7 linked regions of the Homo sapiens genome follow. The protein of the gene in region 1 interacts with the protein of each later gene in a pairwise test. Each region holds a gene or a part of one and is shown on either strand. Other genes may lie near its edges.

What was found.
Region 2: the proteins of POMP (region 1) and CAPN3 interact in a two-hybrid assay, tested with the Homo sapiens proteins (one large-scale study listed by BioGRID and IntAct).
Region 3: the proteins of POMP (region 1) and RBM5 interact in a two-hybrid assay, tested with the Homo sapiens proteins (one large-scale study listed by BioGRID and IntAct).
Region 4: the proteins of POMP (region 1) and PSMB7 interact in binary tests that used the Homo sapiens proteins (3 or more experiments, as listed by UniProt).
Region 5: the proteins of POMP (region 1) and DCPH1 interact in a two-hybrid assay, tested with the Homo sapiens proteins (one large-scale study listed by BioGRID and IntAct).
Region 6: the proteins of POMP (region 1) and KLHL41 interact in a two-hybrid assay, tested with the Homo sapiens proteins (one large-scale study listed by BioGRID and IntAct).
Region 7: the proteins of POMP (region 1) and PYGM interact in a two-hybrid assay, tested with the Homo sapiens proteins (one large-scale study listed by BioGRID and IntAct).

What each region holds. Positions count from the first base shown.
Region 1 is NC_000013.11:28,665,630-28,669,129, reverse strand, and holds part of POMP (proteasome maturation protein), read right to left. Parts: intron 658-3,500; coding exon 556-657; intron 1-555. UniProt on the Homo sapiens protein: Molecular chaperone essential for the assembly of standard proteasomes and immunoproteasomes. Degraded after completion of proteasome maturation. Mediates the association of 20S preproteasome with the endoplasmic reticulum.
Region 2 is NC_000015.10:42,366,001-42,369,500, reverse strand, and holds part of CAPN3 (calpain-3), read right to left. Parts: intron 1-3,500. UniProt on the Homo sapiens protein: Calcium-regulated non-lysosomal thiol-protease. Proteolytically cleaves CTBP1 at 'His-409'. Mediates, with UTP25, the proteasome-independent degradation of p53/TP53.
Region 3 is NC_000003.12:50,087,450-50,091,718, reverse strand, and holds the start of RBM5 (RNA-binding protein 5), read right to left. Parts: upstream 2,801-4,269; 5' UTR 2,690-2,800; intron 1,338-2,689; 5' UTR 1,285-1,337; coding exon 1,268-1,284; intron 1-1,267. UniProt on the Homo sapiens protein: Component of the spliceosome A complex. Binds to ssRNA containing the consensus sequence 5'-AGGUAA-3'. Regulates alternative splicing of a number of mRNAs.
Region 4 is NC_000009.12:124,398,443-124,401,942, forward strand, and holds part of PSMB7 (proteasome subunit beta type-7 precursor), read right to left. Parts: intron 1-3,500. UniProt on the Homo sapiens protein: Component of the 20S core proteasome complex involved in the proteolytic degradation of most intracellular proteins. This complex plays numerous essential roles within the cell by associating with different regulatory particles.
Region 5 is NC_000006.12:151,458,966-151,462,465, reverse strand, and holds part of DCPH1 (damage-control phosphatase ARMT1), read right to left. Parts: intron 1-3,500. UniProt on the Homo sapiens protein: Metal-dependent phosphatase that shows phosphatase activity against several substrates, including fructose-1-phosphate and fructose-6-phosphate.
Region 6 is NC_000002.12:169,512,702-169,516,201, reverse strand, and holds part of KLHL41 (kelch-like protein 41), read right to left. Parts: intron 1,629-3,500; coding exon 1,471-1,628; intron 1,349-1,470; coding exon 1,241-1,348; intron 1-1,240. UniProt on the Homo sapiens protein: Involved in skeletal muscle development and differentiation. Regulates proliferation and differentiation of myoblasts and plays a role in myofibril assembly by promoting lateral fusion of adjacent thin fibrils into mature, wide myofibrils.
Region 7 is NC_000011.10:64,757,175-64,761,457, forward strand, and holds the start of PYGM (glycogen phosphorylase, muscle form), read right to left. Parts: upstream 2,801-4,283; 5' UTR 2,725-2,800; coding exon 2,482-2,724; intron 1,531-2,481; coding exon 1,429-1,530; intron 1,342-1,428; coding exon 1,263-1,341; intron 1,176-1,262; coding exon 1,072-1,175; intron 737-1,071; coding exon 605-736; intron 1-604. UniProt on the Homo sapiens protein: Allosteric enzyme that catalyzes the rate-limiting step in glycogen catabolism, the phosphorolytic cleavage of glycogen to produce glucose-1-phosphate, and plays a central role in maintaining cellular and organismal glucose homeostasis.

The sequences.
Region 1 (3,500 bases):
ATTGATACAATTTTTTTTTGTTTTAAAAGACAACAGCGGTTCAAATGCTACTGCTGAGACAGAGCAAGCAGAGAGGGGTTAAAGATATCAGCTTGAGAAGGCATCATTGATAAAGGGATTTTCCTGAAGTAATGTAACAGGATAGAATCCAAAGCACAGGTAGGAGGGTGGTTCTTACATAATTGGAAGGACATTTTCCAAGTACTTATTCCTTAGAAACAGGTATATTCAACTATATACAAATTGTATACTTGACACCTCCACTTGGATATTCTTAGAGGGATCTCAAATTCAATGTAATACATAAAAAAAAAACCCAGAAAAACATGAAAGCAGATGCAGGTAAGTTTTCAGACACTGAGCCTGTAATTTGAAGTTTTCCATTTAATGACTTCTTTTTTCCCTCTATGAAGTAGAAATCAAGGTCATACCCTAAAAAGGGGGAGGGAAGTAGAATAGGTTGTAAGGTAGATAAGGTATAAATAGCTGTTATGAAAACAGAAGATTCCTCATGAATGATATCGACACATATGCAACAGAGATCCATCAACTCACCTGCTGCACTGCCTTGAATTCCATCTGTAATTTTAGCGGAGCAAATAGACCCTGAATGTTTCTCAGTGTGGAAAAATTCATTTTATCTTGGTTGAGCTGGAACTACAAAAGACAATGTAATTTTAAACATTACACTCAATACTCTGCTTTCAAAACAGTTAGCAGTGGCATATATATAACACAATAGTTAGATGAAGAATTTTAATATCCATACCTGTAATAAAAACTAAGTATTTTTACTAATTTTTTCTGACAAATTTTAGACCACATATGTCTATATTTCATTTAGCATGCAGGTGTACTTTTACCAGAGTAAAATTACTACCAAAATTCCAAATTTATAAAAGTAAAGGAATGTGTCTCCTATTCAAAAGTAGATTTACAAGACAATCATATTTTAGCGCTTTTGATTAAAAGTACTGCAAAACTAGCAAAGGTGTAATTTGAGATCCAGAAAATGTCACATCCACTGACAAAAATAGTTAATTTCTAAGTATGAAGGCATATATTTAAAAGGATTCAGCAAAAGAAATAATCTGACCACTAAATCATCCTGTTAATTAAACTATGTTTAAACTCCACTTATTTTTGGTACTTGCCTCAGGGGAAAAACAAACATCTCTCAAAAGTTTATTCAATTTGTATTGGGTACTAATCAGCAATTTTTCCTGGATCATACTTTCACTAAGTACTGATATTACATTTAGGGAACTTTGGCCATAACTTAATGTATTTCAGGCAAAATGAATCGACTTGACTCATGGATTCTAAAACAGTTTCCAAAAATGGCTCCTAAGGATAGTGAATGTAATATGCAAACAGACTGTTACAAAGATTTGTCTGAGCTAAGGTGATTATAATGAGGTAAAGTCATTTCTTGTCATTTTTTATTACACGCTACTCTCTTGATAACATTGTCTTCTAATAGTAATCAAAAAGGTCATTTTGAACAAAAATCTATTGAGAGATTAGCACCTACTTGGGATATGACTATGAAGTTTGAAAGTAAGGTGACTAACCAAATGCTTTTTAATTACTTTAGCTTTACACAGCAAATTTTGACAGATGGTCCTTAGGGAAAACCTGCAGTATTTTATTATGGGTATATGATCTGAAGTTCTAAGTGAAGGGTTTGCTTTAAATATTGGCTTATCCTCATGATAATACAATTTTATTCTAAGAGACGGGTCTTGCTATGTGGCTGGAGTGCAGTGGCTATTCACAGGCACGATTATAGAGCACTACAGCCTCGAATTACCAGGCTCAAGCAATCCCCCGCCTCAGCCTCCCACGCCGCTGGGACTACAGGCACACCCCACCACACCCAGCAGTAAATGTAATTTTATGTATAATAACTCAATTTATGTAAATTTTGATGAATACAGCCATCTTGTAATGTGATATTAATACTGTAATTATCAATCAACATGTAAGTTAGCAACCGTGTGCAAAATTAGGCTCTGTGGCAACACACAACAAAACTGAACAGCCTACCTTGGAGATTATAATCCAGTTTGGAAGACATTATGTATGTATCTCAACCCTCCGCACTACTGATTTCTTGGGCCAGATAATTCTTCACTGTGGCAGGCTGTCCTGTGTACTGTAGGATGTTTGGCAGCATCCCTGGCCTCTACCCCATAGATGCCAATATTACATCCCCCCATCCCCCACCGCACCACTTGTGACAACCTAAAATGTCCTCAGACTTTGCCAACTGTTCCCTTGTAGGGGGCAGGAGGATGATCCTCCCCTAGTTGAGAACCACTGGTACAAATGATGATGGCCATCTTCCATCACTATCACCACTGAAGCTCCCAATCATGCAGAGCTACTAGAGGCCAGCAATATGCCAAGGATGGGCTATTACTAACTCCAGATGAGAAGACTAAGGCTTAAAGAAAATTAAGCAATATGCCCCAAGTTTACTTAGCAAAGTGGGGTGCCCACATAGTTCAACTACACAATCCATGCTGAAGGATTTATAATAGACAGTAAGAGTCACATAAAGAGTGAGACTGCCATTAGCTGGCTAAATGATTAAAGAAGAAGAGATGCAGTAGATGTATGTAAGTCTCAAAAAGATCTCTGAAGTTTTTAGATTCTTCACAGTTCCACCTAGTCTCACTCAGATTTGTCAGTTTCTCTTAATATGTATTGCTTAGAACTAAACCAATATTCCAAATCTAATAGCCAGACTAATACACAGGAAAATAATATAATCTCCCTTGATTTGAGCCCCATCTTATTAACAAAGCCCAAGACTGCATTAACCTTTCTTTTTAGTAACTAACGTAATCTGCTGGCTTATAGTGAGTATACAGTCAATTAAAATAGTCAAGTTTTACAGAGCAAGTCACTTTACCCTGCCCAAAGGTGTAGAATTCATTTTTTGAATCCAAACGCAGAACTTCACACTCACCTCTATAAATGTTTTCCTTAAATTTTGGTCTAGACTTTGGTCTATTTTATCACCATGATATAGTTCAATTATTCAACAGAATGAACTATCCTTCTCAACCTTTTTTCCAAAAACCTAATATACATTCTTTCTTTGGTTGCCCACAAGTCCTTGAAAAATACTTATCCTTCCTATGTGTCCACCTGACTACCTAAGATGTAGACAGAGGCCAAAAAGCCCTATCAAAATATTCCCTCCAAATTGACTATTCCCTAATCACCGTTCTCTGGGTACAGTTACCAACCTCATATACTTTACCCTACACTACTTTCACTCGGTTAATAATCCACCATGTAATCCTCAATCTTATCCCTTGTCAGATAATTTGATCCCTTGACTGACCCATTTGGCAACTGAGTAAAAGAGTGAACTAAAATTAATTTGCTGAGTTCATTCAGATGCTGATGATCACTGCTTACCCTATTAAATGCTCACAGCTCACTCAATAGTCCACTTAAGAAACAGTTTCAGGGATCAATGTTAC
Region 2 (3,500 bases), on another chromosome or scaffold:
TGAGATGGTCTTACTGTGTCACTCAGGCTGGAATGCAGTGGCGCAATTTTGGCTCACTGCAGCCCCAACCTCCGTAGCTCAAGTGATCCTCCCACCTCAGCCTCCCAAGTAGCTAGTGACAGAGCAGGAGCATCACCATCTTGGACAAGCACCACCATTTTAAAGTGCCCCTTGATCAAAAACTGCCTAAATCCAACCCAAAGGGCATCAGCCTAATGGCTAATGTCAGTATGACCATAAACCACAAATGACATCTCCAACCAGAAACATTCCAACCGTAAGATAAACTCTCTCCCTGACCAGAGACAAGCCAGCCCCAAGATAACCTCCCCTCCAACCAGAGACATTCCAAACCCACAATGAACTTCTCCTCCACACAGAAACATTCCAAGCCTGTGATAGGCTCTCTCACCCTGAACCCTTAAATACACTTAGTCTGTAAGAGAGAGTACTCCTGACAGAAATCAGCCAGAAGCCCCTCTCAGGTTTATTCTCCAAAATAAACCTGTCTTTATTGAGCCATTTTTCATGTTTCTTTCCTCTTTCTTTTTAACTCTTACAGCTAGGACTATAGGCACAAACCACCATACCTGGCTAATCTTTGTATTTTTGGTAGAGATAGGGTTTCACCATGGTGCCCAAGCTGGTCTTGAACTCCTGGGCTCAAGTGATCCACCCGCCTTGGCCTCCCAAAATGCTGGGACTGCAGGTGTGAGCCACCACGCCCAGCCCACATTCTTAATAGAGCATTGTTTCAAGCTGTAATATTTAAGAATACAGAGAAAATGAAGTATAGTCAATACTCATTATTCTTGGTAGTTATGTTTTATAATAACGCTGAGAACACTGTATTAGTAAATACTGAACCATTGCTCCTAGGGGAACTACAGAGTTAGAGTCCTATGAGTCTCTGGTCACATTTTCATCAACCAATCAATACAGAGCCTTATTTTATGATGTTTCTGCTTAAAGACACCTTATTTAATATTGATTCATTAAATTATTGTTTATTGATTGATGATTCAATAACATTGAACTCACAGCCAACTGACTATAACTTGTGTGTGAACAAAGCTTATCTGACACACGTATTTCCTCCATGAGGCACACCACAGCCTCCTAGAATGCTAGACAGCATTTCAGCACTATGCTTGGAGGTCACCAATAAAAAGCACAGAAATGAGAAAAACATGGCACTAAAGACGTCATGAAAAGGACATTCTTTACAGTATCAAAGCTGAAACAAGAAGGCTGAGTGTTGCCTTGTTTGACCTGAGCTGGGAACAGGCATGTGGGGTGACTCAGATTTTTCACAGCTCTGTGTATGCCCACAAATGACTGCAAAAACACCTCAAGTACTAATTTTGAGGAGACAAACCTTAGCGAGTAGGTGAATTTGCAAATATGGCATCTGCAAATAACAAGGATTGGCTGTGTAAGGTTTATAGCACTGACGTCCTCCATGTTGGAAAAGCCATGCCTATGGCATAAAGTTGGAACACTTTTGTGACTGATCTGAATTAACTAAAAGAGGGATGACATGATTCAAAAACAGGATATGCCTGTAGTCCCAGCTACTCAGAGTCTGAGGCAGGAGGATCACTTAAACCCAGGAGTTCAAGTCCAGTGTGGACAACATAGTGAGACTCCTATCTCTGTTTAAAAAAAAGAGAGAAAAAAATAGGGAGGGTTACCATACAGGGAAAATCAGCTGACTCTATTTCACTGTCTTTTGGGTCACAGCCAGAGAAAATATATTACATTTGCACCTGGAAACATTCTAGTTAGAAATAAGGATGAGTGTTCAGACTGTGAAAGTTACAAGCTGTAGGTTACTCAAGGAGATGGAGCCATCCTTTTCTCTTTAAAACCTTTATATCAGGAAAGAAAGCCATCCATCTGGAAAGGCTGAAAGTAGTTCCCATTTTTGGTCCTATATCTCTGGGGTATTTTAAAAATAGCAGCTTTTATACTATATTTCTGGTGTTCTGGAGTATATAATACACTTCTGAAAGTTCTGATGGTGATTGTTTAAACTTGAAGATTGAATGAAAATGGAAAAGTACGTGTCAGCTCCTCTTCAGCAGAATGCCACCCAGTGTTAGCTGAGGCACCAGGCTTCCTTGTGAATTGTCTTGAACACCACTCCATAGCCTCTGAGAGGGCAGAGCCTCCTCACTCCCACCACAGTTCAGCCGGTTCCTAGCAGCTCCTTTCTGTGTGCTTCTCTCTCCCCACACTCCTGTGCTTTCCACACTCTGAGTGTTGGCTCACCCCTGCTTGTGTAAACCAAAATAGGAACCTCCACCCTCTACCAAGTCACTTGCCTCAGAAGTTTCACAAGCACTCGGAAAGAATTCTGTGAGGGAGGCCGGGTGCAGAGCCTCATGCCTATAATCCCAGCACTTTGGGAGGCTGAGGCGGTGGATCACTGGGGTCAGGAGTTTGAGACCAGCCTAGTCAATATGGTGAAACCCCATCTCTACTAAAAATACAAAAATTAGCCAGGCATGGTGGCGCATGCCTGTAGTCCCAGCAACTAGAGAGGCCAAGGTGGGAGGATTGGTTGAACCTGGGAGGTGGAGGTTGCAGTGAGCTGAGCTGGAGACACTGCACTCCAGCCTGGGCAACAGAGCGAGACCCTGTCTCAAAAAAAAAAAGAAAAAAAAAAAGAAAAAAAAGAATTCTGTGAGGGTCGGGTCGTGGAGAGGAAGAACACCAGGTTAGGGGTCGTCACAAGCCCTGTTGCTTCCTCCACTCCATTTTCCTTTCAGTTCTAGCTCTCCTCCCTCTTGTAAGTAAACGGGCAGGTGTTTTTCTTTCTTTTCTTCCTCGAAAACAATCATACTTAATTCTCCTTCCCCCACCCCAGAGATTATTGTAATTCTGTAATTATAATAATCTTTCTGATTTTTTCTTACAGGTTTTCCTCGAGAAGAGAGAAGATGTTTCTGCCATGTTAAGGGTTCAGAAAGTGAGCACATTTGGCGAAATAAATTTAAAGACTTGACAATAATTCCACAGTAGTAAGAAGATCTACCCTGAAGAATGTCATACTTTTTTTTCTCCTGGTGTAACAGCCCTGGCACAAGGAAGAAGTTGGTTCTGCCTGGATGATGAGGACCTTGGGAAGGGGCAAGAGACCAGGTCATACAGAAAGCAGCAAAAACCAGCCGGTGTGGCTGGGTCCATGTCGATAGACAGCACGGAAGAAAGAAAGAGCCTGGGAAAAGGAATAGGTTGGGGATGGCAGGGTTGTGAGTTAGATGGGAAGGGACTCTTTGTCTTATTTTTCCATTCTGAATGCTTTTCTCCCTCACGTTTTACATTTCACAATTTCCCTCACATTTCTGAATTTCTCTCACATCTCTGAAACTGTGATGCAACTTACATTAGAAAGCTTCCTTCTACTGCACTCAGCTGGGTGATGGTCATGACCTTCCATGGACACCCTCTGATAAGATCAAGAAAGTACTAGTATTGAGAATCTTCTAGACTTG
Region 3 (4,269 bases), on another chromosome or scaffold:
GATTCAGATCTTAGTGACCAAAAACAGGAAGAAAGCAGTTACTCGAATTTCACCCAATTTTAAAGGGTGAAATTAAGTACATCCCTGGCTCATCTACTCTCAAGGGTATCATGCCTACTGGAAAATGGACCAAAAACCTGGATGAACTAAGTTAGTCTTTTTTTTCCCCATCAGGCAACTTAGTTGTCTGTCAGATACAACTGGATAGTTACCCAAAACTAGCACCCCTTAAGAGAACACTCTTCTTATAACATCTGGTTTATTTTTGGCTAAAGGGCAGCACTGGGCTTCATGGGAAAACCTAATAACAAGAGGCTTAAACCTATTTGACCACAGATAAAATACACCTTTTGTAAACTGTTTACCAGATTCATAAAACTGCTGTGCAATCATAAGGCAAAGGAAAGGTTTATAAGGGCTTCATTTAGAATATACAAATTTAATAAAAAGAATCAAAGGAAATATGGGACTGAGACACCCCAAAGGGGTAAATGTTAATTTAGTAAGCTATTTAGAACCACAGACTGCTGACACAGCATTAAAATACCATGTGACATGAACATCTCCTAAGGTCCCTCAGCCTGTCAATGTGATCTACCACAGGGACTGACCTCAATACTAAAAAGGCAGATGGCTGAATAAGGGTGTGTGTTTAAATCAAATGGTCTGAGAGCATGTACCCATAGGTGACACAATAGCCAAATGCTCTCATCTTAATTTTCCACTAATTCTTTGGCTCTTTCTTTCTTCATGTAACACACAGTCCCAAGCTTCTCAGCTCTCTAAGTCTGGATCATCTTGCTATTCAGGGAACAATAACAAGAAATGGCATTCATTGATTGCTTACCACAGCCAGGAACTGTGCTAAGTGCCAGACTGTATGATCTCCTGGATTCTGCAAAGGTTGCTGTCCACACAGGGAACCTTCAGTGACCCACTCTACCCTGCCCTTCTTTGCCTAAAATTCTTTCTTATCCTTCAGCTTCCTTCCAGAGAATATTTTCTCCAGGAAGCTTTCCTGGCTGTGAACAAGAAAAAGACATACTTCCTATGTGTTCTAAGAGCACCCTACACTTTATCACAGCATGTTCACACAGTACTTTAATTCTCTCACTAGACTGTAGTTTGTGACAACAGGATCATAAAGGTGTTCGTTAGCAATGCCTGGCGCAAAACACTCATATATTAGTTTGATAAACTATTTTAAACAAGGAGTTCAGTCCCCACTGAAATGTTGAGATCAAAGCCACGTACTGTAGTAACTTACCTTTTGTCTGAACCCATTGTCCCACTGAAGATTTAGCACACAGCTCCAAAAGGTTCAAATTTTATTTTTTCTAGGAGACAAGAGAGATTAATTGCTATAAATCTCAGAGATCACTTAAGTCAGCAGCTCCATAGCTTGGATACTACTGAGGCTGGGATTTCATCAAACCTTCAAATCATTGACAGTGATTATCTAAGGTGGGGAAGTGGTGGGGACAAACTGTCAACGTTAAAATCGTGCTAACATTTTGTTAACAATGAGCAAAACCGGAAGATTAAGCATATTTTAAAATATTAGATTCCAGATTTAACAGAATCATAATACGGAGCAAGCAGAAGACTCCTTCCCTGCTCCTACCTTAGAATTACAAAGCAAAAAGGGCAGAGCTACAATCAGCTCCTTGGTTTTGTATCAAAGCAACTCCGTGGGATAGTTGACCGTTAAAACATTAATCCAAGTGTCTTCATTAATACAAGGAGCAACATGAAATTCAAACACTTCTGATGAAAAATGTAAAACCTCGTAGAAGCTGGGATACTGAGCTGACTGAAATCTACTACATTAATAACGTATCGCATAAGACAAGAGCAAAGCTAGAAACGACCTAATTCCTAGGTAACAATAACCACCACGTCTTGAGCCAGTTCTTATGACTACAAACCACTGAGTAGTGAACAGCCCGGCCCCCCGCCCCCCGTTGGTAATAAGACATCACACTGCTGGACCGCGTTCGATGAGCGCGAGGTCCGAAAAATCAGTTCCAGTAGTCTCTGGAAGCCTAGTCTAGAGCGAATGCTCAACGATTTGTTGAAATTAATAAATGAAAAAGAACCACTGGGGGGAAACAAGTCCCGGGGCATATTCACTGGTGCCGCCCCTTGTCTCCCGGGCGGTGCCGGCACCCACCTCCGTGGGGTCTCGCGGCCGAGATGGCGGCGTCACGGCCTGCTCGACCGACTCCAGCGTCCGGCCTGCCCTCCCCGCACATGCCCCTCCCGCCTCCCAAGAGGTTCCAAACCCGCAGATGGGCGATCACCGAACAGCTTTTCGGAGAGGGCGATTCAGTTGCAGTTGAGCGGGGGATGGCGGCCAGAGACTGCCAGGGAGCTCCCAAGGAGTGCCCGAGGGACAGGCGACGGCTCCACTGCTCCGTTGGGCTGAAGATTAGGGGACGTGTATCCACAAGGGGCAAAGTCACAGCCAGAAAGAAGCAGGCCCAAGGCTGAGCTGGCTGGACACCCTCTGGAAACTGACAGAGCTGGCAACAAGGAAGGGCGCGGCCCTCCAACGCCTGGGGTAATTTAGCCCCTCTACAGAACCGGCTGGAGCTGATCAGTCGCCTCCGGCAGCTGACAAGGGAGGCTTGGGGGCCAGCCCAAATGGCAAGAACCTACCGTCGTTACAGACAGCCGCCGCACTTACCCCAAGGAGAGACCGAAGCAGCAGTAGCGGTTCTGCGCCCCAGAACCTCCAACAAGGTTCGGCGGCTACACAAAATGGCGCCTCCGCCGACGGCCGTCTCCTACCCACAGTACCTCACGCTTATCCCCTCCCCCTGTCACCCGCCTCCTGCGGAGAAGTCCAATCCTCGAAGCGGCCTGGCTGTGCGAGGGCTGCCGGGAAATGTGGTCGCCAGACCATCCTGTCACTTAGGACGCTCTGTGTTAATGTCTTGCAATTCTCTTCTAAATCACTACAGAGTTGTCGATCGGCTTTTGCAGACCTGGATTAGTTTTTAGGGCTCCTATTAGGCATGTTAATAATTCTTTGCTTTTGCTACTAGCGCCGTAGAGAGTACAGTTTGCTTTCACTGGCACGGTGTAAAACATTGTCTAATTCTACTTCAAAAGGAGACCGTGCGTGAAGTGGTGGCTCACTCACAAGCCAGCATTTTGGGAGGCCGAGGCAGGAGGATCGCTTGAGGCCAGGAGTTCGAGACCAGCCTGGGAAACACAGTGAGATCCTATCTCTACAAAAAATAAAATTAACTGAGCATGGTGGCGTGCACCTCTTGTCCCAGCTACTCAGGAGCTGAGGTGAGAGGTTCGCTTGGGCCCAAGAGGTCGAGGCTGCAGTGAGCTGTGATCTCGTCACAGCACTCCAGCCTGGGGACAATGCGAGAAACTGTCGCTAAAAAATAAAAAGGAGGCCGGTGCTGGGCGCGGTGGCTCACTCCTGTAATCCCAGCACTTTGGGAGGCCAAGGCGGGCGGATCACAAGGTCAGGAGATCGAGACCATCCTGGCTAACACGGTGAAATCCCGTCTCTACTAAAAATACAAAAAAATTAGCTGGGCATGGTGGCGGGCGCCTGTAGTCCCAGCTACTTGGGCGGCTGAGGCAGGAGAATGGTGTGAACCCGGGAGGCGGAGCTTGCAGTGAGCCGAGATTGCGCCACTGCACTCCAGCCTGGGCAACAGAGTGAGACTCTGTTTCAAAAAAAAAAAAAAAAAAGGCTGGACGCAGTGGCTCACGCCTGTAATCCCAGCACTTTGGGAGGCCGAGGCAAGTGGATCACGAGGTCAGGAGCTCAAGACCAGCCTGACCAATATGGTGAAACCGCGTCTCTACTAAAAATACAAAAATTAGCCGGGCATGGTGGCATGCACCTGTAGTTCCAGCTACTAGGGAGGCTGAGGCAGGAGAATCACTTGAACCAGGGAGGCAGAGGTTGCAGTGAGCTGAGATCGTGCCACTGCACTCCAGCCTGGGTGACAGAGCAAGACTCAGTCTCAAAATAATAATAATAATAATAATAATAATAATAATAATAATAATAATAAATAAATAAATAAAAAGGAGGGGCCAGGCATGATGGCTCATGCCTGTAATCCAAGCACTGTGGGAGGCCGAGGCAGGTGGATCAGCTGAGCTCAGGAGTTCGAGACCAGCCTGGCCAACATGGCTAAACCCCGTCTCTACTAAAAATACAAAAATTAGCTGGGTGTGGTGGCGCACACCTATAATCCCAGCTACTTGGGAGGCTGAGGTAGGAGAATCGCT
Region 4 (3,500 bases), on another chromosome or scaffold:
TCTCTGTAAAGAGCTCCTCTTCACAATGGACTTGGATTGGAAAGAAACAAAAAGTAAAAATCACGTTGTTTTTGGGTAGTAAAATTGTGGAGATATATATGCATATATATAGTTTAATTTCCTTTGCTGCAATAAGGCTGTTTCAGTAAATACTGTTTTCAACATGCAGGACAGAGAACCTATGCAGAGAACAGTCAAAAATACAAAATCCAGTAAGTGCCCTTCGGGAATCTGTATAAATATTTTTAGTATTCAGAAGCAAGGCTTAATAGCTAAGTGAAATCACATCTGTAGGATGATAAAATCACAGCAGCTGTGTTGTACTGGGGCTTGCCAGAGATGGAAGACAAGGGTTCAAATCCCAGCTTTGTCACTTATGGGGCTGAGTGACACTAGGTAAGTTGCTAAATCTCTCTAACTTTCAGGTTTCTCGTCAGTAAAATAGCAATAATAGCATCCCTTACACTGAATTTTAACTGAAAATAATGTGCCAGCACCCAGCAGACTCTGGCACAGAGACATTCCCATAAATATGCTTTAAATTCAAAATAATACTAAGCTTTAACCAAAAAAAAAAAAAAAAAAGTAAAAGGACCTGTCACATTTACAACACTTTACAGCTAAACTGGGACCACACAAATGGAACACAATCTAAACCAACTGCATTCCAGGGGTGCTGCAAACTGCTAGTTCACAAACAATGAACAGCGGCTAAGGTTTCTAACACTAAGTTTCAGACATTCTTTAGCACAAACAAGTTGGAGAATCAGAAAATTAATTCACCATCAAATATTCACTGAGTTGCACAGGGCTCCGTGAGACCCTGAGAGTGAGGCACAGAAGCTGCTCTCAGAGGTCTAGAATTGTGCAGGGGCAGGAGGGACAATGCCTAGGGGAAGCAAAGTGGGGCCAAGGCGGGAGTCCTGGGATCCTGCTTCACTCCTGGCAGGGACTTGCTAACTCCGCCAGGGGCAGCCAGGAGGGAATGGCTTCTGGGCCACACTCAGGATGAGGAGGAGGAACACTCCAGGCAGAAAATGTGTTTCTGAAAGGAGGCAGCAACAGCTGTTAGGCTCTCTTCAGAGGAGGGCGAGGGGGCTGCTGCCACTGAAGCCCAGGGCACAAGGGAAGGAAGAACAGGAAATGAGATGAGAAAAAGGGCCTAGAGCCCAACTGAAAAGGGAGATGGCCCCAAATGAAGGCGTGACTGCAACACTGCAGCCAAGAGCCGCAAGGAGCTGGCGCTGAGGAACGCCAGGAGAGAATGACGACAGAAACCCAGGATGTGGCCCAGGGGTTAGCTGCTGTCTGAGAGGTCTCTGTAATGACAGTGGCCATCCCTACCGCCACCACCACTGGATTCGTCCTCACCCTCAACATTTCTGGCCAGGATGCAAGCTCCCTCCCTGCCCCAGGCCTCTCACGCCACTGCTCCCCACAGCTGTCAGCTGCTCCTTCTAACAAGCGAACCTAATCCTCTCATTCCCTGGCTTGAAAGAGCAGGAGACCTCCAGGACAAAATCAAAACAGCTCTGCCTGCAGCGTCTGGACCCCCGAGGCCTGCTTTCCAGCCTTGCCTCTGCTCCAAACTCCCAACATCCATCCCTCTTCCACCCTCCCCATCTTTGCTTCTGCTGCACCCCCTGCATGGGTCCCTTGCCCCACCCCCACTCACTGCTCCTGCCGCACCCATGCAGCAAACTCTGGCCTTTCAGTGCTTAACCACACGGAGCCCTTGTGCACCACAGGCCTGAGGTCTATCCCTCGGGGGTAAGGGGTGCATTGCAAATTCCTACTCATCCCTCAGGCGTTTAAGTGTTCTTTCTTCCCACTTTCACCCATCAGACTGGCAAAAATACTCAGCATCCGTGAGGTGGTGGGAGACAAGCGTCCTTGTATTCTCTAGTGGGAGTATAAACTCGTGCCAGCTTTTTGGACAGCAATTTGGCAATAGCTCTCAAAAGGTAAAATGCACTGTCCCTTTTCTGGGCTGCCCAGCAGCTGTATTTCCTGCCTCTGTCCGGAGAATTCCACTGCCATCTGAGCTGAGGCTGAGCTTCACCAATCAGAAGCACCCACCTTCCCCATGAGGAACTCTCTGGTGGTGGAAGGGATGGCAGGAAGGCTCAGTTCTGTGGCAGCCAGGGTCCGGCACCAGCTGTGCCCGCAGCATAGACTGAGACACTGTTCTTGGCCCCAAACCCAGTTCTTGCCCTCCCAACTACATTGTGAGCCACCTGCTATACTTTTCTCAAAAATCCCTCTCTTCCTTAAATCATCCAGTGACTCAACTGCTTGCAACAGAGAATTCTGGCCGAAACGTGTACACCTTAATCCAGAAATTCCACTGCTAAGAATTTATCTAAATGAAGTACGTATTTATACAAGTAGACCAAGACACATTTGTTACCAAAATATGAAAAACAAGATGTTCATCAGAAGAAGAATGGGTCAGCAAGCATGGTGTAGCCACATAATACAATTCTGTACAGCTTGCTATTATTACAGAAATTCTATAGGCCCACGTAAGCTGATATAAACACTTCTTCAAAACGAGTTAATAGTAAGGGAAGAATATTATGTATAGCATGAGCTCATTTGTGTGTTTTTTTTAAAGGGGTAACTAGATGACAGAGAAGGAGATACGTGAAAGTTTATCATAACACATTTTCTGGAAAAAAATACAAACAATTCTTAACAGTGGTTACTCTGGAGGGATGTGAAGGAGACTTTTCTTATAGTTCTTTGTCCCACTTGAATGTTCTGTCATGTTCATAAATTATGTTCAGTAGAAAATGCTTGAATGTCACTTGCTCAGAAAGGACTACACAAACACCCACCAGCCACACACTCCTTCCTATTATCCTCTCTAATGACTGTTCTTTTCCTCTGGGGCACTTATCACAATGCATTCTTCTAGGTTCATGTGAATTTACCTGTCTAATACCTGTCTCCCTCACAAGACTATAGGCTCTGAGGCAGACGCTGTGTTAACCACTAATCTTCCCAGCTCCTAGCAAAGTGCTCCGCACTAGTGATGCTTAATACACATCAGACAAATGAATGAAGAGATCCAATCCTCCTTCTAAGACTCGGCTCAAGTGAAGTTCTTCCTGAATTATCCCAGCTTGGAAGTGACCTTTTCTCCCTTGGGTCCCCTCCTGCCCTCGTCAGTAGGTACATCTGTCTCCCCCATTAGACTGAGTATCTGAGGACAAAGACCCTGATATTCACTTCTATCTGTGCTGCCTGCTATAGTGCCTTTACACAGAAGGCACTCACTAAAGAGCTGATGAGGCCGGGTGCAGTGGCTCACACCTGTAATCCTAGCACTTTGGGAGGCAGAGGCCGGCAGATCACGAGGTCAGGAGTTCCGTATCAGCCTGGCCAACACAGTGAAATCCCCTCTCTACTAAAAATACAAAAATTAGCTGAGCATGGTGGTGCATGCCTATAGTCCCAGCTACTCGGGAGGCTGAGGCAGGAGAATCACTTGAACC
Region 5 (3,500 bases), on another chromosome or scaffold:
TGAGTGAAAGAAGCCAGACACAAAACTATACACTGTATCATTTCATTTCAGTAAAGTTAAAAAACAGGCAAAACTAACACAGGTCAGAACAATGGTTATCCTTGAGGAGTAATGAAGGCAGTGACTGGAAAGGGACTCAAAGTGGACTTTTGGGGTCTGTAAGGTTCCGTCTCTTGATCTGGGCACTGGGTACACAAGTATGTTCTTGAACACATAAGACATGCACATTTTTCTATATGTATATTACACTTTATTAAAAAGTTTTTCTAAAAATCTAATATTTTCTCTGTACTTTCATCTTTCAATATCTGAAGTGTATTTACCTAATATGTTTAAATTTCACATATGGCTAAAACTTTGAATCTTAATTTAGACTGGCAGACTATTGCATGTTTCAGTGTAAAATGGTAAATCAATATAAACATGTCTTTTATAAAAGCTGGTCAGTCTGGAGTTGCCATTGACCTAGGATAGGGATCCCCCATAGAAGAACCTAAAAATTAGACATTTAAGAATTACTTCAGTGCTGGCTCCATTGTAAGATGGCTCTTTATCTGCCACAGAAACCGCTTTGGGAAGAGTTCTACATCCGTGATTGTGCAACATTCTAGTTTCTTGAACTTAAAGATGCATGTTCCCTCTATCCCATTTAACAATCTGTTCGCTGAACCAGTGGATATCATCACTCCCTGAGCTTCCGAAAGAAAAACTGATACCCAGGCCCCACCCCAGATAAATTAAGCAATTTGTATTTATTCCAACACAATAATCTAAAACTATGTGGTGTTTTTTTTGAGACGGAGTTTCGCTCTTGTCGCCCAGGCTGGAGTACAACGGCACAATCTCGGCTCACTGCAACCTCCACCTCCTGGGTTCAAGTGATTCTCCTGCCTCAGCCTCCTGAGTAGCTGGGATTACAGGTGCCCATTACCATGCCTGACTAATTTTTGTATTTTTAGTAGAGACAGGGTTTCACCATGTTGGCCAGGCTGATCTCACACTCCTGACCTCGGGAGATCCACCTGCCTCAGGCTCCCAAAGTGCTGAGATCACAGGCGTAAGCCACTGTGCCTGGCCTAAAAATACGCATTTTTGAAGCCACCTTCCTTTTCCCCAACTGGGTCATAAATGTGCAGCCAGGTTTGTGAAAATCTGCTCTAGGTATTTTTAGTCTCTGAACCTGATCAACCTCTAAAATCAAACTCAGAAACAGCATTCCTCTTGCCTTAAACACACAAACTCCACCAACCCCACTCAAGATGCCACCCAGTCTTTCAACACTTTGGCAGCTTTGGCTCCTACCACAGATATTTTCCAAAATTAGGAAACCATCACCCCGAATTTCAGACTACTCTCAGTCCTTGACAGGCATCTAAATCTACTATTTGGGAAGAATGGCTGAATAAGGACACTAATCTGATTCACACAGACCAGGCTCAAATCCTGGTTCCACCACCTACTAGCCATGTCACCTTGGGCATGTTAGAAATCTCTCTGAGCCCAATCACCTAAACTGTTAAAATGGAAACCATAACAACGCCTACATTTCACTGGGTTGCACAGTCACTAGAACATTGCTAGTTACTGACAGCTCCTTACATCTTCTGCTGTTCTGCTGGGGTGCCTTCTCCATGCCAAGCAGTGCACCGGAGTTTTTTTTGTTGTTTTTTTGTTTTTTTTTTGAGACAGAGTCTTGCTCTTTCACCCAGGCTGGAGTGCAGTGGTGTGATTTCGGCTCACTGCAACCTCCGCCTCCTGGGTTCAAGTGATTCTCCTGCCTCAGCCTCCTGAGTAGCTGGGACTACAGGTGCGCACCACCGCGCCCAGCTAATTTTTGTATTTTTAGTAGAGACGGGGTTTCAGCATGTTGGCCAGGATGGTCTCGACCTCTTGACCTTTTGATCTGCCTGCCTCGGCCTCCCAAAGTGCTGGGATTACAGGTGTGAGCCACCGCACCCGGCCTGCACCAGAGTTTTAATAGTGTATTTTGCTTTTAGATCAGAAGTTCTAAAACCTACCTATCAGAAAAAACAACAAATTGTGATATGAAAAAAAAATATATAGGCTGGGCGTGGTGGCTCATGCCTGTAATCCCAGCACTTTGGGAGGACGAGGAGGGCAGATCACCTGAGGTCAGGAGTTCGAGGTCAGGAGTTCAAGGCCAGCCTGGCCAACATAACGAAACCCCATCTCTACAAAAAATACAAAAACAAAAAAAGTTAGCCAGGCATGGTGGGAGGTGCCTGTAATCCCAGCTACTCGGGAGGCTGAGGCAAGAGAACTGCTTGAACCCGGAAGGCAGAGGTTGTAGTAAGCCAAGATCGCGCCACTGTACTCCAGCCTGGGCGACAGAGCGAGACTCCATCTTAAACAAACAAACAACAACAAGAACAACAACAACAACAAAATATATACGTGTGTGTGTAAGATTAAGACAAAAAAGCTAATGAACAGATTTTAAAGTTCCATATGTTTCCCAAAATAATTTTATTTTACAATTAGTGCTGACTTGATAGGTCACTTTAAATTGTCCTATGCTATGTTTAGGAACAGATACCAAAGGATTCCTCTTAACAAACCTGTATTTTTGGAACCTGTGCTTATTAAGGATAATCCAATCATCCCCATTAACTTTTCTTTGGCACTATAAATAACAGTTTTTTGTTTTTTGGTTTTTTTAAACAGTCTCGCTCTGTCGCCCAGGCTGGAGTGCGGTGGTGTAATCTTGGCTACTGGAACCTCCGCCTCCCAGGTTCAAGTGATTCTCATGCCTCAGCCTCCGGGGTAGCTGGGACAACAGGCATGTGCCACCACACCTGGGTAATTATATATTTTTTGTAGAGACGGGGTTTCGCCACGCTCACCAGGCTGGTCTCAAATTCCTGACCTCGAGTGATCCACCTGCCTTAGCCTCCCAAAGTGTTGGGATTCCAGGCATGAGCCACCACGCCTGGTCTAAAAACTAGTTCTCTATCAGATGTTTTCCTAGGAAAAATTAAATAATATAAACAAGCCTAGAAAAAGTTACTTTGAAACATGTGTACTTTTAAAATCTTTTTCTAAACTAGCCTTTTTAAAAAAAGATGAAAGATTAAGACTATAATACAATAGTATGATTCACTGTTCTCATGACTCCTTAAACCAAGTAAGTTGTAACGTTTATTATCTATTTCAATAAACAAAACATATGCTTACTTTGTCCCATCCTTATTTATATAAATGTAACTATTTCAAATTTACATTTTTTACTCAATAAGCAAAACTTCTTTTATTCTAGAAGTCTTTGTTGGAATCTTTAATTAATTCACGCTTTATTTATCTATTTTATTGAGACAGAGTTTCACTCCGGTGCTCAGGCTGCAGTGCAGTGGTGCAATTTTGGCACACTGCAACCTCTGCCTCCCAGGTTCAAGCAATTCCCATTCCTCAGCCTCCCAGGTACCTGGGATTACAGGCCCGTGCCACCATGCCTCGCTAATTTTTTTATTTTTAGTAGAGAC
Region 6 (3,500 bases), on another chromosome or scaffold:
TTCTAAATTTTGGCTCCCTTTTCAGGGTTGGACATCACTATTAATTCAATGGCCTGGGCAAATGATGACAAGCCAAATCAGGCAGATTTTTCAGGGGCAGAATATTAGTTCTCACCATCTAAACTGAAAATGCTTATTTTACTAGACAGGTTATACTGGTTTGACTGTCTCTGAAGCATTCGGAGCTCACTTCTCCTCTCTCTGGGTTATAACATCTCTTTCCTGATTACAGGTTCCTTAAGAATTGACTGGAAATCAAGTTAGGTTTATATATGAAACCTCATCCTGGTTTTCTCACAAGATACTGGGTGCTACTGGGAGCTCAGTTTTGAACAGTTGGAAGCCATTTTGAATATTACCTCTGTCAGGGAGTAAATATGTGGAAGAACACTGCTGAGGAAATAATTGCCTTAATTTTTTGTTTTTATTTTGTCTTTTTTACTTCCCTCTTTTCAATCACCACGCTTTTCTTTCAAACTGACCTATCTAAAGTCCCTCTTATGAATGTAAAGTACAAATCCATGATATTTTTTATGCACAGTTGTCTTAGAAGATATATTTTAAATACTACATTAAAGATACCTTTCAATTTTTATCTACTTATGGCTAAATGAATAAGAAAACCCATTGGTTTTAATGTAGTAAAATACAATTATAAATCAGTGAAATACAGGACTTGATTATGCTCCTAGATACTGCCTGGACTGTAAGGATGCTTATGATTGGGGTATTAGGCTCATTCCTAGCAGTATGCTGAGTATCTACATGTTTACTTCAGCGACTTGAAATTTTAAGATTTTCCCTCCACAATATGATAGGTGAGAACCATGTCCCATTTTAGTGTGCAGATCCAAAGGAAAAGAGGAAGAGACCGGGCGTGGTGGCTCACACCTATAATCCTAGCACTTTGGGAGGCTGAAGCGGGCAGATCACCTGAGGTCGGGAGTTCAAGACCAGCCTGACCAACATGGAGAAACCCTGTCTCTACTAAAAATACAAAATTAGCCAGGCGTGGTGGAGCATGCCTGTAATCCCAGCTACTCAGGAGGCTGAGACAGGAGAATCGCTTGAACCCAGGAGGCGGCGGTTGCAGTGAGCCGAGATCACACCACTGCACTCCAGCCTGGGCAACAAGAGTGAAGCTCCATCTCAAAAAAAAAAAAAAAGAAAAGAAAAGAGGAAGAAACCCTTCTAATAAAAAGTCATTTAGACATAAATCATGAGAGTTCAGGGTACTTACTTGTCATCTGTCTTTCCTCCTAGACAATATATCATCCCTTTATGTGAAATCACATTATGGCCATAGACTTTGATAGGGAGTTTTTTTACTTCGTTCCATTTTGCAGCCCTAAAATTAAACGAGACAGAATTTATATACCTTCAGTAAATTCCAGGTTCTGAAAATATGAATATGTTGTAGGCACGCATATACTTGAATGCTTAGGGAACAGGAATATCATGCCAACTTACACAGGATCATAGCATAATACTGAATCCAGCGAAGCCTCTGTTTGAAGGTCTTTGCCTGCAACTACATAGATTTTATCATCCACCTCTCCCAGACCGAAGAGACACCTGGCTGAAGGCAGAGGTGGAAGTCCAACCCATTCAGATGCTATGCTATCGAGCTGAAAAAAACATATATGAGAGATTGTGGAGCCTGTTAGAAAAAAATTAGAAGTACACCAAAAAAAGTTATACTTTATATGTTGTTTAGAAGTCATCGAGATAGTCAAATATCTCACAAGTAAATAAAACTACAACCCCAAAGTATCACATTGTAGCTCATAATTACCAAGAAGAATGAGTAAATCTACTTGGCCTACCAGATAAAGATATCAAAATCTTCAAGGCTTCAAGAAAAGAAAAAATAAAATAGAATCACCAGAGGTTAATTACAACTGTGAGGTTTCTTGTCAAATTTTCTCCCATATTGCCTTGTTCAGCTTTGAAACAGGAGATCCTCATACTTTTAGGACACTGGGGAAAGAAAGGTTGTCATAACAAGGAGGGTCACAGAATGTGAATGACCCCTGCGTGCTATATTTAACATGCTCCCCATGCCGGCAGCTGGGACAGCTGGACCTGTCACTCAGTCCACAAACAACTGGGATGTTGGGCAATATCTTTTTTTCTTTCTTTAAAAACATTTTAGGTTCTCTGTGTTTTGCTTTATTATTCCTGATACAGGCAGGCGTTAAAGTGAATTTCCTAGTGTGTTGTTGGGAGTCCCTTGAAATACTCTTCTCTTTTTTAAAAAATTTATATTAATAAGTAACTGCTCATTTTTGGTCACCACCACTTCTGCAAGCTTAAGATTTTCCCAAGGAGGAAAATCTCCTTGTGCCCATGCCCTGGGGTAGATGATGGTGGCATCTGTTTCATCACTTACTTTTGGTAATTTAAATATTTTACACTTTTCATTTTAGCACACTAAGGCACAAGAAAACTGTTTTCTGCAAGAGTACAGTTGCAGATTTGTTGTTCTCTCTGGTACCACTTCTAGATTGCAAAAATAAAATGAATAAAACCCAGTTTCACTGGATACTAAGAATAGATGTGCATACAAATGGCTGTGGTATAGACAGGGGTGTCTGTGGAAGCCTATCTATATGTGGTCTAGTAACCTCAGTTAAACAAAGCGCTAATTAAGACTAGATGACATGAGAAGTTTAATCTCCACATGTGCATTCTTAGCTTTGCATTCACTAATTTCAACAGCTAGATTTTGATCCCTTATGTTTTCACTTTTGAAAGAAATTCTTTGATCATGAAGGTGGTATGTAATATAGTAGAAATAATAATGAACATTTATGGGGTTTTGACTGTTGTCATAGTCTTTGAACTAAATGCTTTACACAGGTAACCTCATTTAGTTCTCCAGGATAGGCATTTCTATCATCCCCATTTTACAGATGAGGAAACCGAGGCACAGGAAGATTAAATAATTTTCCCAAATACACAGAACTTTTAGGTGATATTCAAATCCAAGCCATGTACATTCACAGTTGGTTTTAAAAAATGGAAACAGCAGCCATCATAATCCCATACCTGTGGGCTTAACTCTCATACTGTACAGTACTGCCTACCTTCCCATATTACCTGTTAGAGGGCACTTTCTCTAGCAGATGGAACAGTAGACTACCTACCAGTCTCTTTTATAGAGGAACTATCAAGCTATTTAACTTCTCTGAGTTCAACTTTCCTCATTGTTAAAATTAGGGTTTGGACCTAGATTACTTTAAGACCTGTTCAAAGATTTGATGAATCTATTAATTCAAATTAATGAGTGGGGGAAAAAATCCTCCCTTACCAAGGTAAAAAATTCTCATAATCTATTTACAGCATACAATCAAAGGTCAAATTACTCCTAAATTAATGCATTTTAAATAGATGTGACCAAGCAGAAAAATATAAAACCTGAAATTCTCATGTAAATATTGTCTGATGAGTCACAACCCTCTTTTATGGTGAAGTGTTTTTATCCTGGCATACCGTTC
Region 7 (4,283 bases), on another chromosome or scaffold:
GGCCTCCCAAAGTGCTGGGATTACAGGTATGACCCACTGCCCCAGTCTATTTTTTTTATTTTTTGTAGAGACAGGGTCTCTCTATGTTGCCCAGGCTGGTCTTGAAATCCTGAACTCAAGCCATACTGTCACCTCGGCCTTCTAAAGTGCTGGGATTACGGGCATGAGCCACTGTGTCTAGATTTGGTTTGGTTTTAGGATCCCTCTAACTTGCTGTGTGATGAGTGAATTCCTTTCGGAAGGCTCCAGTTTTCTCCTGTCCCCCTTTCTGGGCTGCTGCTGTCGAGATGTTCAGGGCAGACTCAAGTCGCCAAGATGGTCCTTTGATAAATCTCATGGTGTGGAGTGGAGCCAGGTCATGGGGAGACACTGGGGGAGCAGGGCAGCCTCTCTCCCCTTCCAGACTCTGCACTTAGGCTGGCTCCCCTGTGTCCCTGTCTCCAGTCTCTCCTGGCTTCAGCTGTGTGACTTTGAGTAAGTCACTTAACCTCTCTGAGCCTCAGCATCCTCAGGTGTAAAATACACTGGGTCCTGCTTCCTCTCTGGGCTTCCTTCTCTTCCCTCCCCTTCTCTGGGCTCCCCTGACCCCCAGCTTCATCCTCACCTGTGTGTCCACCCACTTGGCACCCTGGCTGGTGTGCTCCACATGGCCGTAGAAGTGCACAGGTAGCGTGAACTCGGGCCGGGCCTTCTCCCAGGGGTTGCCGTAGCGAAGCCAGTCATCGGCCTCCTCCATCTGCACCCAAGGCAGGTCAGGGAGAAAGGCCAGCAGTATCAGTACAGGCACTCACAGTGCACGGTGGGGCAGGGTGGGGGCCGTGGGCCGGTGTACCCTACACCAAGTATAAGTCAGGAGCTCTGAGGTGGGCCCCTGGTCTGCTGGGCTATCGAGTGGGACACGGACCACCTGTTTCAGGGGCACCAGCTGGCTTTGGGTCGGGGGGTGGGGAGCAGCAAGGATGCTTTCCACAGAGCTTGCGGGGCTGTTTCGGACCTTGCCAGAGATGATAAACAAGTGGGGGTCTTCCCCATCCTGACTAGACCCCACAAGTTAGAGCCAAGGCTGCTCACCTGCCAGCCCCCGGAGATCTTCTGGTTAAAAATCCCAAACTCATAGCGAATCCCGTAGCCATAGGCGGCCAGGCCCAGTGTTGCCATGGAGTCAAGAAAGCAGGCTGGGGGTGTGCAGGGAGGTGGCTGTCAGGGACCCAGCAAGGAGGACCCCATCGGCCCACTCCACCCTCACGGCCCTGTCTTCTTACCTGCCAGCCGGCCCAGGCCCCCGTTGCCCAGCCCCGCATCCTCCTCAATTTCCTCCAGCTCCTCCATGTCCAGGCCCAGCTGGAGGAGTGAGGGTGACAGTGGTCAGGGTCAAGTGTCAGCAGTGGAATCCCCCAGTCCCCACGGCTTGCCCCACCCCACACACACCTGGTAGGTGGCCTCGTCACAGGCATTCTCTAAGGCCAGGTTCACCATGGTGTTCTGTAGCGTCCGTCCCATATAGAACTCTAAAGACAGGTAGTAGATCCTCTGCCCAGAGAGACGGATGGGCAGGGAATGGGGTCAGGGCCACACACCAACACTCAGCCAGGCCCAGCCACGCCTGGACCTCTGGCCCGCCTGCCCTGCTCAGCAGTCCCATCCCTGTCCCCAATTTGTTTCTCCCTGTCTCAGGCTTTGGGGCCCAGCGGTTAAGGTTCTGGTCCCAGCATTCCTCTGACTTTGGACAAATCACTCTCTTTGGCCTCAGTCTCCTCATCTGGGAAATAGCGCTGGCCATACCCACTTCAGGGACTGAGGTACTCGGGAGAATGGGCACCCCTTCCCCCTGCACACACCCCCAGAGAAAAAAGTCATTTGCTCAAGGTCACACAGTGGCTAGAGACTGGGCTAGAGACTGTCACCTCCCATCCTTGCACTGTCCAGTTCCCCTTGGCCCTCAAGCCTCAATCCCAAGGAGACCCAGAGGCACCAGAAACTAGGATGCTGCCAGTGCCTGGTCTCCCAGTTTCCTGGGTCCCCTCCTGGGCCGTCTGCCCGCCCCTCCCCCACTCCCCACCGAGGCGTGTCAGGTTGCTGACATTTACCAGTGACCCCACCGGACACTTGATCTCTGCCGCCCCAGCTGCCCCAGCCCCGCCTGCTGCACAGGCACACCGCGCATACATGCAGCAACTGATGTGTCCTTCCACCTGGGCCCAGCCAGGCCACAGGCGCCGTCCTGCCCACCAGCACCCACTCCAACCTTCTCCGAGTGGGCACTGACCCTTTGCAGCCAGCCCACCTGCTCTGAGCTCCCTGACCCCCACTCCTGCCCCAGGTTTCTCCCTCAGATTGTCCCAGCACCCCTTGTGCCTGGCACCCCTGGATTCTCCACCCCCAAGAACCTAGAGTGACGAGGGGCAGCCACTTAAGTCAAGATCGCCAGCTCCCTGGCAGCGCCTTCAGCCCATACCCCCACCCCAGGCTCCCCAGCAGCACCTTGGGGTCCTTCTCATAGTAGTGCTGCTGCGTGCGGATCCAGCGCCCCACGAGGTGGTCGCGCACGGTATGGGCCAGAGCAAAGTAGTAGTCTCGTGGGGTGGCCACATTGCGGTCCTTTACGAGTGTGAAATGCAGGTGCCGGTTGAAGTTCTTTTTCAGCTCAGTCACGTTCTCCACGCCGGCCAGGCCACGCACACTGATTTGCTTTCTTTTCTCTTGGTCTGACAGGGGCCGGGACATGGCTGCAGGAGGGCGGGCCGGACTGGACTGATGGTAGAGGGGACGGCGGCCTCAGCACTGCCTCCAGCCAAGGAGTGGAGCTCCCCAGCCTCAAGGGGATTTAAAGCCTGGCTCTGGGCAGCACGCCCCGCCTCCCCTGCAATGGGAGGGTCTTGGCCTGGCAGCTCAGGGAGCTATTTTGAGGGCAAGGGGAGGAGAGGAGAGGGGAGGGAGAGGTGAGCTCCACTTGGGCCGCCAAGACTGGCCTGGCTTGTTCACAGGCCTGTGCTGACCCACTTCCTCCAGGCCTTGCACATGGTCTTCTGTCCCTTGTCCCTGCCTTTTGGAGGGTTGGATACAAGAAGGAGCAGGCAGAGTGCTGGATTGGGGAGCTGTCTGTCAGTGGCTGAACCAGGATGGGAGGCCATGTGTTGTGGCAAAAGGAACCAGGACCCCCTGCAGGCTGTGGTGCAGGAGCCAAGTCAGTGTCCCCTGACGGAAGAGGTGCAACTAGCAGAGGCCACTGGATGTCTTTGAGAAAGGGGCCCACGACCCTGCATTGCAGGGGTGGTGTGAGGGAGGTTGTGTGAGGCAGGGCCACAGCCCTCACTCCACCCCCACCGAAGCTGAGCAGCTCTAGGCTCCCCCTGTTGCTGTCCCTCAAGGAGCCCTGAAGTGACCTTTTGGAGAGGGATGCTCAGGTTACTGGCCAGCATTGGCGGGAGGCCGCTAGCCTGCAGCACGGGGCCCTGGGAACTGTAGTCCTATAGGCCCTCGGCGGTGGGAGAAACTGAGGCATTCCCCACTCCATCATCATACTGGTTTAATGACAGTAAGTTCTCCCTGTGATTCCACTGCTTAGGAAGTGATTAGAGGCCTTCTTTCACTTCTTCCTGCCACCTGGGGCCACACTCTGAGCAGGATTTTGTAAACCAGCTCTGTGACCTGGCCTATAAAATGGGTGCCTAATCTGTACCTCGAGGACCTCACCCCATTTGTGTGCATAGCCCCACAGCTTTGAGCCCTTCCCTGGAGGCTTTGGCTATCCTCCCATTCACTGCTGTGTTCTGGCCCCAGCACTGACTTGCTGTGTGACCTCAAGCTGGTTGCTTTACCTTTCTGAGCTTTGGATTCCTTCACCAAATTTAGACTCTCCAATGAGAAAAAAAAAAATCCCTGCCTCTCAGCTGCTGCCTCCTCATCTTGTGAGGGCAGGCTTCGGATCCTGCTGTTCTTTAAGAGAAAGGAACCAGGACCTTGTGCTAGTTCAAAGGCTGTTTGGGCCTCCCGGGTGGTGGGCCGGTGGAGGGGAAGAGCTGGGTGTTCTGTTCTGAAGGCCAAGGAAGCAGGTCAAAAGCCTGGACAGCTGCAGGATACTATTGAGAGCCTGGTTCGGAGAAAGCCAAGCTGTTTCTGAGAACTTTTTTTTTTTTTTTTTTGAGGTAGAGTTTCATTCTTGTCGCCCAGGCTAGAGTGCAATGGCATGATCTCAGCTCACTGCAACCTCCGCCTCCTGGGCTCAAGCAATTCTGCCTCAGCCTCCTGAGTAGCTGGGATTACAGGCACCCACCACCATGCCC